2 linked regions of the Homo sapiens genome follow. The protein of the gene in region 1 purifies or fractionates together with the protein of each later gene. This does not show direct contact. Each region holds a gene or a part of one and is shown on either strand. Other genes may lie near its edges.

Region 1 (3,827 bases):
TGCCACAGGGTAACTGCCCACCTCTGTCTCTGCTAAAGTCAGGAGACTAATTTTTGGCAAGGACCTCAGGACTGGGGATACCAATTGAGGACAGGGTACCATTTTGAAAACAAGTGAACCCCCATATACTGAATGCTAAAATCCCCAGCGCAATCTTCAGCACTAGATTCTCAGAACACTGGCAGCTAAGTCATTACCCTCAGGCCAAAGGTTGAAGGAGTCTTTTCTGAAGAATCTCATCAGCCAAGAGGAAAGACCTACAGATATTGACATTAGAGTTTGCAAAATATTGTCCAACGAGATCATCCTACAGTGATGCTGATGGTGGACAAAGCCTACACACAGCTCAAAGCCTTCAATAAGCTTTTATAATCTCCTACTTATCAACAGGAGCAGACAAAGAGGAAACATCTGAGGAAAGCATCTAACAGAAAAATTGACGATGTCTATGAATTCTTCTAAATGACTGTTTTGTTTGTGTGTGTGTGTATCTGTGTTTAGTGTGTAAGTGGGTGTATCTGAGTGTGTATGTATGAATATACACCTATATGTGCATCTATGGGTGTATCTGGGTACACAGGGGTGTGTGTGTGTGTGTAAAGCTCGGAGAAATGCTGAGTCACGGGACCCATGCACCCACATCTCCCATATTCTGCCCGCCACCCACGTAGAAGTGTGACTGTGCAGGAGCTGCTCACAGAACAATGTCAGCTGGGCACAGTTGATCCCAGAAGCCCCTGAGCAGAGAGGTTTTGAGGATGGTTGGAGCACTTGGAGCAACCAGGTCTCAGCCTTGGCCAAGAGAAGGGCCAGGTGTGGTGGCTCATGCCTGTAATCCCAGCACTTTGGGAAGTCAAGGTGGGAAGATCCCTTGAGTCCAGGAGTTCAAGACCAGCCTGGGCAACATGGTGAAACTCCATCTCTATGAAAAATACCAGGTGTGGTGCACATGCCTGGGAGGCTGAGGCGGGAGGATCACTTGAGCCTGGGAGGTTAGGGCTTCAGCCATGATGGTATCACTGCACTTCAGCCTGGGTGGCAGAGTGAGACTTTGTCTCAAAAAAAAAAAAAAAAAAATCATAAGGATCAAGTGTGGGTGATAGCATCACTGTCCCAGCACCTCACTGCCCGTTATGAGGAAGAAGCCCTATCTGACTTTGCTGGGTGTCCCACCCCTGTGACCCAGCTGCCTTTTCAGACCAGCTGCCTGCAGATACCTGTGGGTCTACAACTAACTTGTCATTCAGCCCTCAGCTGAGGAAAAAGGGGCCCCGAAGGGAGGCCCTGATCCAGGCGTCACAGATCTAGTCAGACAAGAAGTGACAGGGTAAGTTGAGGTGAACCCCAAAAAGCACAGGGGCCCAGGGCCTGGACCAAGAACAGGAAAAGTGTCAAGGTAGGGTGAGGACCAGGCCAAATTGAAGGTCAGGGTCAAAGGCAACACTGGTGTCAGGGCCAGAGCCACAGCAGAATCAGGGCCAGGTTGCAGTCAGGAAATTACTTTTTTTTTTTTTTTTTTTGAGACGAAGTCTTGCTCTGTCGCCAGACTGGAGTGCAGTGGCACGATCTCAGCTCACTGCAACCTCTCCCTCCTGGGTTGATTCTCCTGCCTCAGCCTCCCGAGTAGCTGGGACTATAGGAGCTCGCCACCATGCCCAGCTAATTTTTGTATTTTTAGTAGAGACGGGATTTCACCATGTTAGCCAGGATAGTCTCCATCTCTTGATCTCGTGATCCGCCTGCCTCGGCCTCCCAAAGGGCTAGGATTACAGGTGTGAGTCACCACGCCCAGCCGGGAATTACATTTTAAAGTAGGTGCCCCTCCAGCACTGTCCTTCATTTTCTTTAAGATGCTAGATTCCCAGAGAGCCTTTCCTGTCCAAGACACCTACATAAGGCAGCCAGCTCCCAGGGTAGCCCTCTTTTCTGAGACTGGGGCCTGATGCACTGTTGGCAGAGACCCAGCCCTGCTCCCAGGCAGCATACAGTCTAGGAGAAAAAGGACAGGTATATGTAGCTCTGACCTTCATGAGCTCCCCACCAGGAAATGGCAGAAATGAGAAAGTCAGAAAACTACTCTGACGTAAGGCCACCGCTCGGCCCCAAGCCCTAGCCTTGGATGAAAAGAAAGGAGGAAAGGGTAATTCAGACAAGAGCACTGTGCAGAGGAGCCAAGGCTAGCATGGGAATCCCTCTGACATGGGGAGGGGGGTTGGGAGACCCACCTGGGCTGACCTTCTCAAGAGAGGCTGGATCTAGTTCCAGCAAGACCCCAGGGCTGGGGTCTCTGTGCCCCTAACCACTTCTCTCCTCTCCCCTTGCCCAGGGTCTGACTCATACCATGGAGCGACATGTGGATCCCGAAGCCCTGCAGAAGATGGCCAAATGTGCTGTACAGGACTACACTTATAGGGGGTCCATATCAGGCCACCCCTACTTGCCTGAGAAGTACTGGCTTTCTCAAGAGGAAGGTAAGGCCTCACCCTTTGCTGACCCCTAAAATGACCCCCAACCTGAACCCAACCACCTGGATCGTGACCTCTATCCTTTTTTTTTTTTTTTTTTTTTTTTTGAGACGGAGTTTCGCTCTTGTTGCCCAGTCTGGGTGCAATGGCATGATCTCGGCTCACTGCAACCCACTTCCACCTCCCAGGTTCAAGTGATTTTCCTACCTTAGCCTCCTGAGTAGCTGGGACTACAGGCATGTGCCACCAGGCCCGGCTAATTTTTGTATTTTCAGTAGAGATGGGGTTTCACCATGTTGGCCAGGCTGGTCTCGAACTTCTGACCTCAGGTGATCTGCCCGCCTCGGCCTCCCAAAATGCTGGGATTACAGGCCTGAGCCACCATGCCCAGCCTCCATCCTGATTCTATGTCAACTTTATCTCCACCCATGACCTAGATTTCTTCCCTAACCACCCCCTCCACCAACCACCTGACCTGACCCTGGCCCTGGAGGAGATGACCTAGGCCCTGCTTTTTGGGGTTCTTGTCGGTGGAAAAAAAAACCTGGAAGGGCCCTGGGTCCCATCCTTAGCGAGTTGGAGAAAGGATTAACCTCCCACAGACAGATCCCTCCAAGTGCATTCCAGATACCATCTCCTCCCATCTTCCCAGCCATCCTGCTCCCATCAGCTCCCTCCACCTCTCCTGCATCCCTCTGCCCCACCACACCTCTTTCCCTCAACCTGGAACCTTCTCTAGTTTCTTCCCAACTAAAAATTATCTCTTGCTCCTGTTCTCAACAGCCTAGGTTCTCGGAAACATGGTCCATACTCACTGTCTCTATTTCCTCACCCTTTCTTATACCTTATGAGAAACTGTCTTTCTCATTTGCTTGGATATAATATAATCTGTCTGGCTGTACATTCGAAAAGAGCCGAGTCTGGTCTTATTCACAGCTGTGCCCCTCCATCGAGCACAGCACCAGGCTTCATAAGTCTTTGTTGAATGGACTGAGAATTCCCAATGGAAGTTGGGAATGTGCATCTCCTATGATGAAACAATAAATTGCTCTTGCATGGCTCTGATTACCAAATCCACAGGACTCTGCAGTCTTTACCCTCTGAGACCTTTACCCTCCTAGACCAATGAATTGCACTCTTCTGACCACTCTCTACTCGTTTTGTTGTTGATGTTGTTTTGTATGTTAATCCTCCAGCACACAGGCTATGACCACACTCTACTTCTTGAAACAACTTCCTCCTCAGCTTCTCTGATGCCTCCCTTTCCTGTGCATCCACTGTGGAAACATGGGGTTCCTCAGGGTGTTATCCTGCACCCTCTTCTCCCCTTGCTCCTCCTCCAAGGCCATTTGATTTAACACA
Region 2 (2,821 bases), on another chromosome or scaffold:
ACAGGGTTTCGCCATGTTGGCCAGGCTGGTCTTGAACTCCTGACCTTGTGATCCGCCCGCCTCGGCCTCCCAAAGTGCTGGGATTACAAGCGTGAGCCACCGCACCTGGCCTTTTTTTTCTCTTTTTTTGACAGTGTTGCTCTTGTTGCCCAGGCTGGAGTGCAATGGCATGATCTCAGCTCAGCACAACCTCCGCCCCCGGGTTCAAGTGAGTATCCTGCCTCAGCTTCCCGAGTAGCTGGGATTACAGGCATGTGCCACCATGCCTGGCTAATTTTGTATTTTTGGTAGAGATGGGGTTTCTCCATGTTGGTCAGGCTGGTCTTGAACTCCCGACCTCAGGTAATCCACCTGTCTCGGCCTCCCAAAGGGCTGTACAGGCGTGAGCCACCAAACCCAGTGACATGTGCATTCTTTTAAGACCAGGGACCAGATTTTTATTTTGTACCTAGTGTGGCTTGTGGTTCCTTCCAATTCAGGGTTGTATAGTATTCAATTTTAAATTCCACAGGACATATGGTAATAATATGTCTCTTTCGTTTAATGACTATGTAATTATAGGACTTCGCATGAAATACCATTGCCTTGGAAGATATGTTTACCTCTAGGGCTCCATTCATTGAAGGACCTTATCATCGCTAACTCTTAAAGAGAACTGATGTAGAACCATAATTTTTCTAGGAGTGTTATCTTCCCACTTAACAACTGGCACTGTGAATACACCTTAGAAAAATTAAATTTCTACATATTTCACTTATCCCAAAAAAGAGAAGTTATTTCTTCTCATGCTCTTTGCCCTACTTAATCATTGCTACCCTGACAGTGAGAACACTCACATATGCCCTATGGAATGTAAAATTCTATGCTTTTAGACTTTAAACTATTTTAAAATCTTTAAAGTTTATGTATATATTTGGCAGTATGTTTATGGTGGTTATATTTGCTACATGAAAGAAACCTTGCTGTGGCCCTTTTTGCGATACAAACGATCACCTGTTTAATCTGTAGTATAATAATAATATGTATAATAATAGTATATTTATGTATATTTTCTTAAGTTCAATCAAGCATTATTTGTACAGTTCAGAATAAATCCTTCTTTTTTTCTTTTTAATAACAGTGTCCGATAGACACCAGGAAGCAACTAGCAGAGAATTTGGTAGTCATAGGTGGCACTTCTATGTTGCCAGGATTTCTCCACAGATTGCTTGCAGAAATAAGGTATTTGGTAGAAAAACCAAAATATAAAAAAGCACTTGGCACTAAGACATTTCGAATTCATACTCCACCTGCAAAAGCTAATTGTGTGGCCTGGTTGGGAGGTAAGAATTTCACTTTTAAAATATAATGATTATATAGTATTTGGTCTCTGAATGACACTATTAATGGATATATTAGAATAAATAATTCAGGGTTCAGAATTGCCCACTTTATAAATAGAACTAACACTGACTTTTTCTTTTTTTTTTTTTTTTTTTTTTTTTTTGAGACGGAGTCTCACTCTGTCGCCAGGCTGGAGTGCAGTGGTGGTGCGATCTCGGCTCACTGCAGCTTCCGCCTCCCGGGTTCAAGCAATTCTGCTGCCTCAGCCTCCTGACTAGCTGGGACTGCAGGCGTGCACCACCACGCCCAGCTAATTTTTGTATTTTTAGTAGAGACGGGGTTTCACCATGTTGGCCAGGATGGTCTCGATCTCTTGACCTCGTGATCCACCCACCTTGGCCTCCCAAAGTGCTGGGATTACAGGCATGAACCACCATGCCCAGCTGACTTTTTCTTAAATTGTATTAATTTTCAGAATTTTATACCTATTTCTCTTGGCATTTGCACCGTGATATTAAGTAAACGTTCTCATTTAGTTAAAGTCATCCCTCAAAATAGTGAAAGCTATGAATTTATTCCAGTGATGCTACCATTTCTTTCTTTCTTTTTTTTTTTTTTTGAGACGTTTCATCTTTGTTGCCCGTCCAGCTGGAGTGCTATAGCGTGATCCCAGCTCACCGCAACCTCTGCCTCCCAGGCTCAAGCAATCCTCCTGCCTCAGCCTCCCTAGTAGCTGGGATTATAGGCGCCCGCCACCACGCCTGGCTAAGTTTTTTGTATCTTTAGTAGAGACAGGGTTTCTCCATGTTGGTCAGGCTGGTCTCAAACTCCTGACCTCAGGTGATCCGCCCGCCTCTGCCTCCCAAAGTGCTGGGATTACAGGTGTGAGCCACCGCCCCTGGCTTACCATTTCTTAAAATGTTCATTTTAATGTCTTCTAAAGCTAGTGAGCCACATATGAAAATTGGCCTCTTTAATTTATGAGTATATTTGTGACTGAGTTCATTAAATGTTTTAAGTAGTGATGGTTTCACTGAAATAAGCAATTAACCTAATAAGTACAGTTGACCCTTGAACAACATGGGTTTGAATTATGTGGGTCCACTCATATGCTGTTTTTTAGGAAATATGCTAGAAAAATTTTGGAGATTTGCAACAATTTGAAAAAACATAGACAAACCATGTAGCCTAGAAATATCAAAAAAATTAAGAAAAAGATACATCATGAATGTATAAAAATATATATACAGATACTGGGCTGTTTATGTGTTAATCGACTATTCATGTTATTGGTAAGACTTCTCAGTCAACAGTAGACTATTGGTAGTTAAGTTTTCGGGGAGTCAAAAATTATACATGGATTTTCAACTGCTTGGGGGTCCACACCCCTAATCCCTGCATTGTTCAAGGATCAGCTGTAACTACTTTGAAGGGAAAAACAATCATGAATATGTACATTTATACAGGTTCTGATATGTGTTTTATGATGCAGTTAGAG

Evidence for each region.
Region 2: the proteins of SPMIP6 (region 1) and ACTR10 purify together in Homo sapiens (affinity purification with mass spectrometry, with the first as the bait; one large-scale study listed by BioGRID). This does not show direct contact.

Annotation. Positions count from the first base shown.
Region 1 is NC_000009.12:34,384,281-34,388,107, reverse strand, and holds part of SPMIP6 (sperm microtubule inner protein 6), read left to right. Parts: intron 1-2,326; coding exon 2,327-2,471; intron 2,472-3,827. UniProt on the Homo sapiens protein: May participate in intramanchette transport and midpiece formation of the sperm tail. May play a potential role in somatic cell proliferation.
Region 2 is NC_000014.9:58,230,946-58,233,766, forward strand, and holds part of ACTR10 (actin-related protein 10), read left to right. Parts: intron 1-1,120; coding exon 1,121-1,322; intron 1,323-2,821. UniProt on the Homo sapiens protein: Part of the dynactin complex that activates the molecular motor dynein for ultra-processive transport along microtubules.